Regions from separate parts of the Homo sapiens genome. Here region 2 is linked to region 1. Evidence: fine-mapped QTL for protein levels in blood plasma. A gene starts in region 1. The other region holds a variant in brackets. All regions are shown on one strand. Distances are between the middles of the regions.

Region 1 (5,388 bases):
TCCCTGGAGATGACTCTTGGCACTGCTGGAGCATTTCATACAACCCAGGTCTCTGTTCCAGTCTTGTTGATTAAACCCATGGTTCTCCTCCAAGCATAAGGCTGGGCCCAACCATAGTCTCAACCAGAGAAAGGGAAAAAGTGACCAAGCTGTTTTCTTCCTCCATCCTTATCCAGAGAAAATATTAGAACCCCAGGAACACAGGAAGAGGAGAAACTAAAAAAATGAGCACAGACTTCCCGTTCTCATCACAGCGGTGATTTTTTTGGTCACTAGGTCTGGCCAGAGTTCCTCTTCTGTTTGGAAGAGCAGGGCATTGTCTGAGTGCCCGGGAGAACTGCCCACCTTCCTGACTGGAAAGTGTGGCCAAGGCACCTGCCTGCTTCTCTGTCTTTTCTCCTGCCAGGCCAGGTGCCAGATAGAGCATCCAGAGGTTTGCACAGGAGAGGTGCTCAGGAAAGACCTGTAGATGAGCATGATAATAGGAAGATGGCTTCTGACTCCCTCCCTCTCCACAAAGTGGGAAATGAAACTTCCTATGGTTTGGGACTTTTACATCCACCTCCTCTGAAACCCCAGAAGGCCCACAGCCCAGGATTCCATGCCTTTGCTCAGCTTCCTCATGCTGGAACAGCCTTTCGCCTAGCGGTAGCTATTCTACCTACCTCAGCCTGCATTTCCATCACTTGGAGTAAATGCTCCCTGCTCCAGCCCCTTCCTATGCCATGGGCCCAGCCGCTAAGGCTTCCTCATCCTTTCCTGGGACCAATGAGAGGGCATCTGGGGGGCTCTATAAAGTATAACTCATACCACAAACCAGCAGAGAAAACCCAACTTCCTGACCGAGCGGAAATGGACAAGACACTTCCCAGGCACACTGTGTGGCGGCTTCTTTCCCGCAAATGCCTCAGGAGGAGACATGGACCCCTGCAAGGCCCCTTCTACCAGGGTCTTGAGTAATTTGGATTCTTCTCTATCCCCAGGCCCAGAAATAGGACAGGCTATGGATGAAGGGCCAGGAGCCAGGAGCAGAAGGGCAGAGATGATTCTGGAGTTAGGCTGGGTCCCAAGCATGAGAGTCCAGAAGTGGAACATTCTAATCCTGTCTAAGCCCTGATGGAACCAAGGCTCTGCAACCACACGAGCCACCTGAAGAGAGTAGGAATCTTCATGGACACCCAGAGGCAGGCAGTGATGTGGAGCCAGGCCCTCATATTCGGGACTATCAAATGTTAAAATTTAGAGCAGACAGCAGGCCTGGAAGTTACAGACAGGCTGGGTAGGGAAGCGATGGGACAGAACAAATGAGACACCATCTTTGCTACCCAGTTTCCTTCCCAGAGCTTCCCAGTGTGGGGTCCTCTCTGGGTTCCCTCATCCAGTCCGAGAAGCCACTCCAGCCTGAGGCCCGGTTAGCTGGAGAGAGAGCATCAAGGGCCTGTAACTACAATGAGCTGCACATAGGCATGGGCTGAGCGTGCAGCCACTATCCTCCCAAGTACCAAAGGTGGCAGTAGCCCCTGAAAGCATAGGTAGATATTTCCTTGGCCCTGTTAACTTAACCTCTAATCCTGGTCCCTGATACAGGCTGTCATCCAGCTCCACTGGCTCAGCCTCAGCAGGCCCAGGACAGCTTTCTTTTCCTGCGGCCAGAGCTTTTGTTCATTCCTGGGTAAGGAGTAAATCACACTTCCCCTTATGCTTTTGCATTGAAGATGAATGAGAACTTCTGGAGACAGTGGAAAAAAGCAGCAGCTTCTAGAAGGCAGATCCCAGGCCCCAGACTGTGTAAATGTCTGAGTGGCATGATCAGCTATCAAGTCTCCAAGTCACTTACCATTCACACATCCATCCATGCATCCTCTATCCATCCATTCATCCATTCACCCATCCTCCAATTATCTGGACCAATTTCCTTCTTTTTTCTTTCCTTCCCTCCCTCTTTCCTCTCCTCTTTCCTATATTCCAAGAAATATTTGTCTAGAGTCTGCCATGTGCCAAATTTCTCAGATTTGGCAGACTTCTTCAAAGCATGAGAAGCCGCCCAGGAGAAAATTTAGTCCTTCATTGAGCCCAAATCAGCTCTTCTGTGCCCTGAGCTTCTTGCACATATGGAACTCTCTATTTAGGACTACAAAGAAGGAGAGAGGAGGTGCGGACAGAGAGAGAGGAGAGAGAAACAGAACGATTCCTAGTCTGAGGTTGCTGAGCGCCCCTACTTTTTTTGAAAATCTCACATGGTGCAGGAAGCAGGGAGGAGAACCCAAGTCTTAGGTTTACACTTTGAATCTCCAAGTTGCATATTATAAAGGGATATTGTATCAGCCAAGATGCATTAATAACAGGAAGCAGGATATTCTATTGCAATGGTTGCCTATTTGGTATCTCTGCTTCCAGGCTTCTCCCCACCAGTCTGCTCCTCACCAGGATCAGAGTGATGTTTCTACAGTGTCCCTGTCCTTGTCTCTCTCCTGCCTGAAGTCCTTAATTGGCCCCATGTCACCCACAAGCCAGAGGTCCAGCTCCTTGACATGATCAGAAGGATCTTCATCATCAGACCCCAGGTGCCTCTTCAACCCCGTGTGCATCCCCTTCCTGTTGGAATGTATATTTTACATTCCAGCAATATTGCAACTATTTACAATTTGCCAAGCACTCCATGCTATCTTATGCTCCATCCTTTGGCATATGCTTATCTTTCTACTGGATTTTTTTTTTTCCCATTACTCCATTTCATATGCTTCTTTGAACTGGGCATATTTGTCTCTTGTGCTCATCACCTTGCAATTTATTTGCTCATGTCTGTCTTTCCTACCAGACTATGAGCTGCTTGGTGCAAGGACTGCGAGTTATTCATCACTGTGGCCCTATGCCTGGTAGAGCATCAGTACCTAGAAGGCACTCAGCCTGTATTTGTGGGGTGAATGGATGGGTGGATGGATGACGAGAGTCTTACAAGAGAAATGGGATAGGTTTGGGACAAGATGGTTAATGTATCCATGTAACAGACCCCCAGAGAAGACAACAAATGGCCTCTTCCTGAAAGCTCAGACTTCTGAGGATGGGAGTAAGCCAGACAAGGTATCTAGTCAGGAATAGGGAAGTTGGGATGATATGGTGACCTGCTGTGGGACTGACTTCCTGTTTCCTCTAGATAAGAGCCCTTGGAGAGACAGGCAGCCAGAAGCACCTGTGCTCCCAGGATAAGGGTGAGCACTCAGGATGACTGTGGAGAAGGAGGCCCCTGATGCGCACTTCACTGTGGACAAACAGAACATCTCCCTCTGGCCCCGAGGCAAGCCACATCGCTGCTGAGAACCTGCTCCGTGTTCTGTGTGCAAACCTGCCCTTTGCTGCTCCTTCAACACACATTTTCTTCTTCTTCCAACAGAGCCTCCTCCCAAGTCCGGTCCATCTCTGGTCCCGGGGAAAACACCCACAGTCCGTGCTGCATTAATCTGCCTGACGCTGGTCCTGGTCGCCTCCGTCCTGCTGCAGGCCGTCCTTTGTAAGTCCTCATGTTTCATCGTCTGGGCTTAGCCCCTCTCTGTGGCCAGCCGGCTCCCTTCAGATCGAGACCACTTCCCTGCTCTCCGGGTTTCTCCTGCCTGTGGCTTTTTCATTTGTCTCCTTCCTCCTCTTTCCATGTGCAGTAACAGGCTGTGCTGCCCCCAGTACGGTGAGCTGATGCTCTTTCCCTCCCAATTTCTGGGAGATTATTGGGATTAGCATTTGCACATTGGTGCTCAAGGATACATTCTTTTGTCCTCAGGAAACATTGATCTAGTTTTACATCCTGTGCTATTTTCTCCCCGTCCACCCCCCACCAATCTGAGCTCTGCTCCTTGGATCTAGAGCCTTGTGGACAGTCCTTGACAGTGCAATGTCTCCTGACCCTGTGAAGGACCGAGCCTCATGTATCATTGGCCCCAGCTCACCAGATGGAGAGCCTGGCCAACGAGCCAACAGATCTCCATGACTCAGTCCCCTCTCCCCAGGACTCGTTGGTGCTGTCTTCATTCTCCTGTCCCTGTGAAGATCACATCTAGGGAGGCTTCCTGCTCATTTGATGTTGCATGGTTTATCTTTCTTCCTTTTCTGGCTCTGTCAGGCTTCATGGCCTTTGCTGCTGGCAGAGCCTTCTTCCTCCTGCCAGGGCTCCAGGAAGCAGAGCAAAGGGACCCAAGAAGCTGTTGGGTTTTTTTTTCTCCCTCTGTGGCCTCGGGACATATTTGGGCTTAGACTTGTAGGCTCTGAGCAGAGTCCCCCTTGCCCCATCCTAGACCCCTGGCCTCTAACATCGCATTTTCCTCAGGGCTCGCCTTTGAGCCTCTTGGTTTATCTTTGATCCTCTCTCTGGTACCCAGGCCTGGGACCTGAGCAGAATGTGAAAGTGGGTGGGGCAAGGGAAGGGGAGAAACAGTTTTGTAATCTCCTCTTCCATGTTCTCTGGAGAAGCCACTTCCAGATTAGTGGCTGGTTCTTCCCATGGTCACAGAGGGGCCCATGGACAGATGTGGGGGAGTGGTGCTGTCCTAGCAGATGGCCACTGCAGGGGTTTCTGAAAACAGAGGGATGGCAACCAAGGGGTGGGGTCTAGGGGGAATCAAGTTCTGGGGACAGTGGTGGGGCTCATGGAGGGCACCCTTTATCAAATGTTCCCTGAACACTCAGAAAATTCAGGAATGGTTTCTAACTCCTGCTTCTGCTTGCCTGTGAAATCTTTTCACAGAGAGCCTGTGTTTTATCAATCTCCCCATTATCTGTATCCACCTGTGTTCCTGGCACATGGTAGGTGCCCATTGCACGTTTGTTGTACGTTAATGAATGATTGGAGGGTTGGGGTGGCCCATTGGACTGTCTTGGTTCTTTGGGAAGCTTCAGCCTATTCCTTCCCTTCCTTTGATCAACCTGACAACACCCCCACTCCTGTCCCTGGGACTCCCCTCAGCTGACCTCCTGACTTTCTCAATCCCAGATCCCCGGTTTATGGGCACCATATCAGATGTAAAGACCAATGTCCAGTTGCTGAAAGGTCGTGTGGACAACATCAGCACCCTGGATTCTGAAATTAAAAAGAATAGTGACGGCATGGAGGCAGCTGGCGTTCAGATCCAGATGGTGAATGAGAGCCTGGGTTATGTGCGTTCTCAGTTCCTGAAGTTAAAAACCAGTGTGGAGAAGGCCAACGCACAGATCCAGATCTTAACAAGAAGTTGGGAAGAAGTCAGTACCTTAAATGCCCAAATCCCAGAGTTAAAAAGTGATTTGGAGAAAGCCAGTGCTTTAAATACAAAGATCCGGGCACTCCAGGGCAGCTTGGAGAATATGAGCAAGTTGCTCAAACGACAAAGTAAGTGACTCAGAAAATTACATTGAAGCTGACCA
Region 2 (5,388 bases), 47 kb before region 1:
AAAAGTTCAAACAGTGCCAAAAGATAAAGATAAAACATGACACCTCCCTTCATGCTTGTCCCTACTTCTACCCCATCTCATTCCTCAGAAGTGTGAAGTGAGAAGTTTGGGGATTGTTTCGGCAGCTCCCCTCCCTAGTCTGTTTTAAAAATAGTGTATTTAGGCCGGGCACGGTGGCTCATGCCTGTAATCCCAGCACTTTGGGAGGCCGAGGTGGGCCGAGGTGGGCCGATCACCTGAGGTCAGGAGATCACCAGCCTGGCCAACATGGTGAAACCCCGTTTCTACTAAAAATACAAAAATTAGCTGGGCGTGGTGGCTAGCGCCTGTAATCCCAGCTACTCCGGAGGCTGAGGCTGGAGAATCGCTTGAACCCGGGAGGCGGACGTTGCAGTGAGCCGAGATCGCACCATTGCGCTCCAGCTTGGGCGAAAAGAGTGAAGCTCCGTTTAAAAAAAAAATTGTGTGTTTAATCTTTTTAGACTGAGCACTCACGCACTCACATTCTCCTCCCTGAATTTCACAACCCCCTCCTCCAAACCACTGGGTTGTATTTGCTGTTAGTCTTTGTTGTCATATATTCTCACAAAATAAGCTCTTTTTTTTGGTGTGCGTTTTTATTGTATGTACATGGTATTGAGTTTTATATTTCATTTTAAATATTATTTAAAATTGTTAAAAACAATTTCAAATTTATGGGAAAGTTGCAAGAATATTACAAAACTCTAGTATTGTCTTTAAGCTGCAATTGCATTATCATTCTCTTTTAAAATTATTTTTATGGAAGCATTTGAGGATAAGTTGCAGACACCATGCCGTTTTACTATTAAATACTTTCGCGTGCATTTCCTGAGGGCCATCACCTACATGCCACATTGCAGTGATTAAAATTAGGAATCTTAACATTGATATATAATCTTCAGATCTTATTCAAATTTCATCAATTGTCCCAATAATATCCTTTATAATATTATTATTTTTTTCTGGTCCCAGATTTAATTCAATATTACCCATTGCATTTAGTTTTTAAGTTCTTGTTAGCCTCCTTTACCTGGAAACAGTTTATCAGCTTTTTTTGTGTATGTTTGTAACAGATATTTTTGAAGAATATGGACCAGTTAGTTAGATTGTATATATTGGAGTTCCTTGTTTTATTTTGAACAGTCTGAAACTTACAGAGAAATTGTCAAGAGCATTACAAAGAAACCCCCTCCTCCACTTACCTGTTTGAACTCAAGTTGCTGACATAATGCTTTATTTTGTATTTCTAACAAACAAGGACATTCTCCCTTGAAATCGCAATGCAATCATCAAAATTAGAAAATTAATGCTATCACAATTGACTCCTCAGACCCCCTTGTCAATGGTTCTGCAAATGTCCTTTATTATCAAAAGGATGCAGTAAAGATGTATTGCAGTCAGTTGTCACGTCTCTTTAGTCTCCTTCAATCTGTGACAGTTAGTTCCAGTCTTTGACTTTCACGGCCAGTTATTATGTAGAAAGCCCCTCGGTGTGGATTTATCTCATGTTTCCTCACAATTCAATTCAGACTATGCATCTTTGGCAGGAATATCACAGAAGTGATATTGAATTCTTCTCATTGTGTCCTATCAGATGGTACATGATTTTGATATATCCTGTACTGGTGATGTTAACTTTGATCATTTGAGTGAGAATTAAGTTTCTCCCTGTAAGGTTATTTTTCCCTTTGCATTTAATAAGTATTTTGCAGGGAGGAACTTTTAGACTATCTATATATCCTGCCCCTCATCAAGCTCTTTGTGCATTGTTTAGATCAATATCAACAAATGGATTCCTAATGTATTCAATAGGCTATATTTTGTTACTATATTATTTATTTAATTTGTGAATTGTCCCAAATGTCCTTTTTTGGGGGTAATAGCTTTATTGAGATATCATTCATGTATCATACACTTCACCTATTTAAAATACACTGTGTAATGTTTTTTAATATGTATATTCACAGAGTTGTACAACCACTCCTATAATCAATTTTAGAACATTTTCATCATCCCCAAAAGAAATCCCATTCCTGTTAGCTTTCACCTCCCAATTCTCCCATCCCTGCCAGCCCTAGGTAACTATCTACATTGTGTCTCTATAGATTTGCCTATTCTGAACATATCATATAAATGGAATTGTTCAATATATGGTCTTTTGTGACTGACTTCTTTCCCTTACCATAATGTTTTCAAGGTTCATCCGTATTGTAGCATAAATCAGTACTTCATTTTTAATGGATGAATAATTCCATTGTATGGACATACCACAGTTTATCTATTCGTCAGTTGATGGACATTTGGGTTGTTTCCACTGTTTAGCTATTATGAATACATCCTGCTGTGAATGTTCTTGGAGAAGTTTTCGGTGGCCATATATTTTCATATCTCTTGGGTACATACCTAGGAGTGGAATTGCTAGGTCAAACAACTAATTCTATCTTTAAATTTTTGAGGACCTACCGCACTGTCTTCCAAAGTGGCTGTCCCATTTTACATTTTCCCCTAGCAATGAATAAGAATTCCAATTGTTCCACATCCTTGGCAACACTTGTTATTGTCTGTTTTTTCAATTATAGCCATCCTAGTGGATGTGACTTTGTATTTCAATGTGGTTCTTATTTGCATTTCCCTGATGACTAATGATGTTGTCTATCTTTTCATGTGTTTCTTGGCCATTTGTATATCTTCTGTAAAGAAATATCTATTTATGTCCTTTGCTCTTTTTCACATTGGGTTATTTGTTTTTATATTATTGAGTTTTATTATTTATTATTTATATTTTTAAGGTAGAGTCCTCTAGTTGCACAGGTTGGAGTGCAGTGGTGCAATCATAGCTCTCTGCAGCCTC[G/A]AAATCCTGGGCTCAAGTGATCCTCTCACCTCAGCCTCCTGAGGAGCCAGGACTACTGGTGTGCACCACCATGCCCAGTTAATTTCCCATTTTTTGTAGAGACAGAGTCCTCCTATATTGCCCAGGCTGGAAGAGCTTTTTCTAGTTTTCTTCTTTTCTGTATTTATGCTACCTTCTCGAACAGTGAGAAATCTGTCTCCTATTTTCCTCAGTATGTATATTTGATCAGTTTCCTGGTGTGTAACGAGTTTCCTGTGGCTGCATTGCCTCTCTGTGCCCCACCCCCACTGAGGAGACTCTGCTCACCCCACTGTGGCTGAGGTATCTGATGCTGACACTGTGTGGATGTCTCCCTGCTTGGATCCCAACACACCCATGCGGATTCACCATGGCAGACACTCTCCCTTATGGGGATGCTTACCTTGCTTGGCCCTACCTAATGGCTTTTGGATGACATTTTCAGGAAGGGAAGAGCAACTATATATATATATAAAAAATTGTATTTTTTTTGCCACATCAATTGACTCTTTTTTTTATGAGAGATTTCTCTGTAGCATGAGATGCTGTTTGACAGCATTTTACCCACGATAGAACTTCTTTCAAAATTGGAATCAGTTTTCTCAAACTCTGCTGCTGCTTTATCAACTAAGTGTATGTAATATTCTAAACCCTTTGTTGCCATTGCAAATAATGTTCACAACATCTTCACTGGAAGTAGATTCCATCTCAAGAAACCACTTTCTTTGCTCAACCATAAGAAGCAACTCCTCATTCATTCAAGTTTTATCATGAGATTGCAGCAATTCAGTCGCATCTTCAGGCTTCACTTCTTTTTTCTTTTTTATACTTTAAGTTCTAGGTACATATGCATAACATGCAGGTTTGATACATAGGTATACATGTACCATGTTGGTTTGCTGCACCCATCAACTCATCATTTACATTAGGTATTTCTTCTAATGCTATCCCTTCCCCAACCCCCCACCCCCTGAGAGGCCCCGGTGTGTGATGTTCCCCACCCTGTGTCCAAGTGATCTCGTTGTTCAATTCCCACCTATGAGTGAGAAAATGCAGTGTTTGGTTTTCTGTCCTTGTGATAGTTTGCTGAGAATGATGGTTTCCAGCTTCATCCATGTCCCTGCAAAGGACATGAACTCATCCTTTTTTTATGGCTGCATAGTATTCTGTGGTGTATATGTGCCACATTTTCTTAATCCAGTCTATCATTGATGGACATTTGGGTTGGTTCCAAGTCTTTGCTGTTGAATAGTGTTGCAATAAACATACGTGTGCATGTGTCTTTATAGCAGCATGATTTATAATCCTTTGGGTATATACTCAGTAATGGGATCGCTGGGTCAAATGGTAACTCTAGTTCTAGATCCTTGAGGAATTGCCACACTGTCTTCCACAATGGTTGAACTAATTTACACTCCCACCAACAGTATAAAAGCATTCCTATTTCTCCACATCCTCTCCAGCATCTGTTGTTTCCTGACTTTTTAATGATTGCCATTCTAACTGGCATGAGATGGTATCTCATTGTGGTTTTGATTTGCATTTCTCTAATGACCAGTGATGACGAGCATTTTTTCATGTGTCTGTTGGTTGCATAGATGTCTTCTTTTGAGAAGTGTCTGTTCATGTCCTTTGCCCACTTTTTGATGGGATTGTTTGTTTTTTTCTTGTAAATTTGTTTGAGTTCTTTGTAGATTCTGGATATTAGCCCTTTGTCAGATGGGTAGATTGCAAAAATTTTCTCCCATTCTGTAGGTTGGCTGTTCACTCTGATGGTAGTTTCTTTTGCTGTGCAGAAGCTCTTTAGTTTAATCAGATCCCATTTGTCTATTTTGGCTTTTGTTGCCATTGCTTTTGGTGTTTTAGTCATGAAGTCCTTGCCCATGCCTATGTCCTGAATGGTATTGCCTAGGTTTTCTTCTAGGGTGTTTATGATTTTAAGTCTAACATTTAAGTCTTTACTCCATCTTGAGTTAATTTTTGTGTAAGGTGTAAGGAAGGGATCCAGTTTCAGCTTTCTACATATGGCTAACCTGTTTTCCCAGCACCATTTATTAAATAGGGAATCCTTTCCCCATTTCTTGTTTTTGTCAAAGATCAAATAGTTGTAGATGTGTGGTGTTATTTCTAAGGGCTCTGTTCTGTTCCATTGGTCTATATGTCTGTTTTGGTACCAGTACCGTGCTGTTTTGGTTACTGTAGGCTTGTAGTGCAGTTTAAAGTCAGGTAGCATGATGCCTCCAGCTTTGTTCTTTTTGCTTAGGATTGTCTTGTCAATGCAGGCTCTTTTTTGGTTCCATAAGAACTTTAAAGCAGTTTTTTCCAATTCCCTGAAGAAAGTCATTTGTAGCTTCATGGGGATGGCATTGAATCTATGAATTACTTTGGGTAGTATGGCCATTTTCATGATATTGATTCTTCCTATCCATTAGCATGGAATATTCTTTCATTTGTTTGTGTCCTCTTTTATTTCATTGAGCTGTGGTTTGTAGTTCTCC

Direction of the effects. Alleles are on the strand shown, and positions count from the first base shown. The strength of an association depends on the size of the effect and on how common the allele is.
In carriers of allele G in region 2, the plasma level of the protein whose gene starts at base 3,183 in region 1 tends to be higher than with A alone (weak association).

Evidence for each region. PIP is the chance, under the fine-mapping model, that this variant and not a neighbour inherited with it causes the effect. The UK Biobank Pharma Proteomics Project read protein levels with antibody pairs (Olink). The fine-mapping took linkage between variants from a reference panel, not from the people measured, so its PIPs are less certain.
Region 2: its variant is fine-mapped to the plasma level of the CD207 protein (UK Biobank, PIP above 0.99).

The regions. Positions count from the first base shown.
Region 1 is chr2:70,833,611-70,838,998 of GRCh38, reverse strand. CD207 (CD207 molecule) reads left to right here and starts at 3,183. Exons shown (of 6, transcript NM_015717.5): 1 at 3,183-3,295; 2 at 3,392-3,508; 3 at 4,979-5,353. The coding sequence starts at 3,223.
Region 2 is chr2:70,880,400-70,885,787 of GRCh38, reverse strand. No RefSeq gene overlaps it. Among named protein-coding and RNA genes, the nearest start is that of LINC01143, 4.8 kb to the left of the region's middle. The variant G/A (reference allele first, on the strand shown) is at 2,873.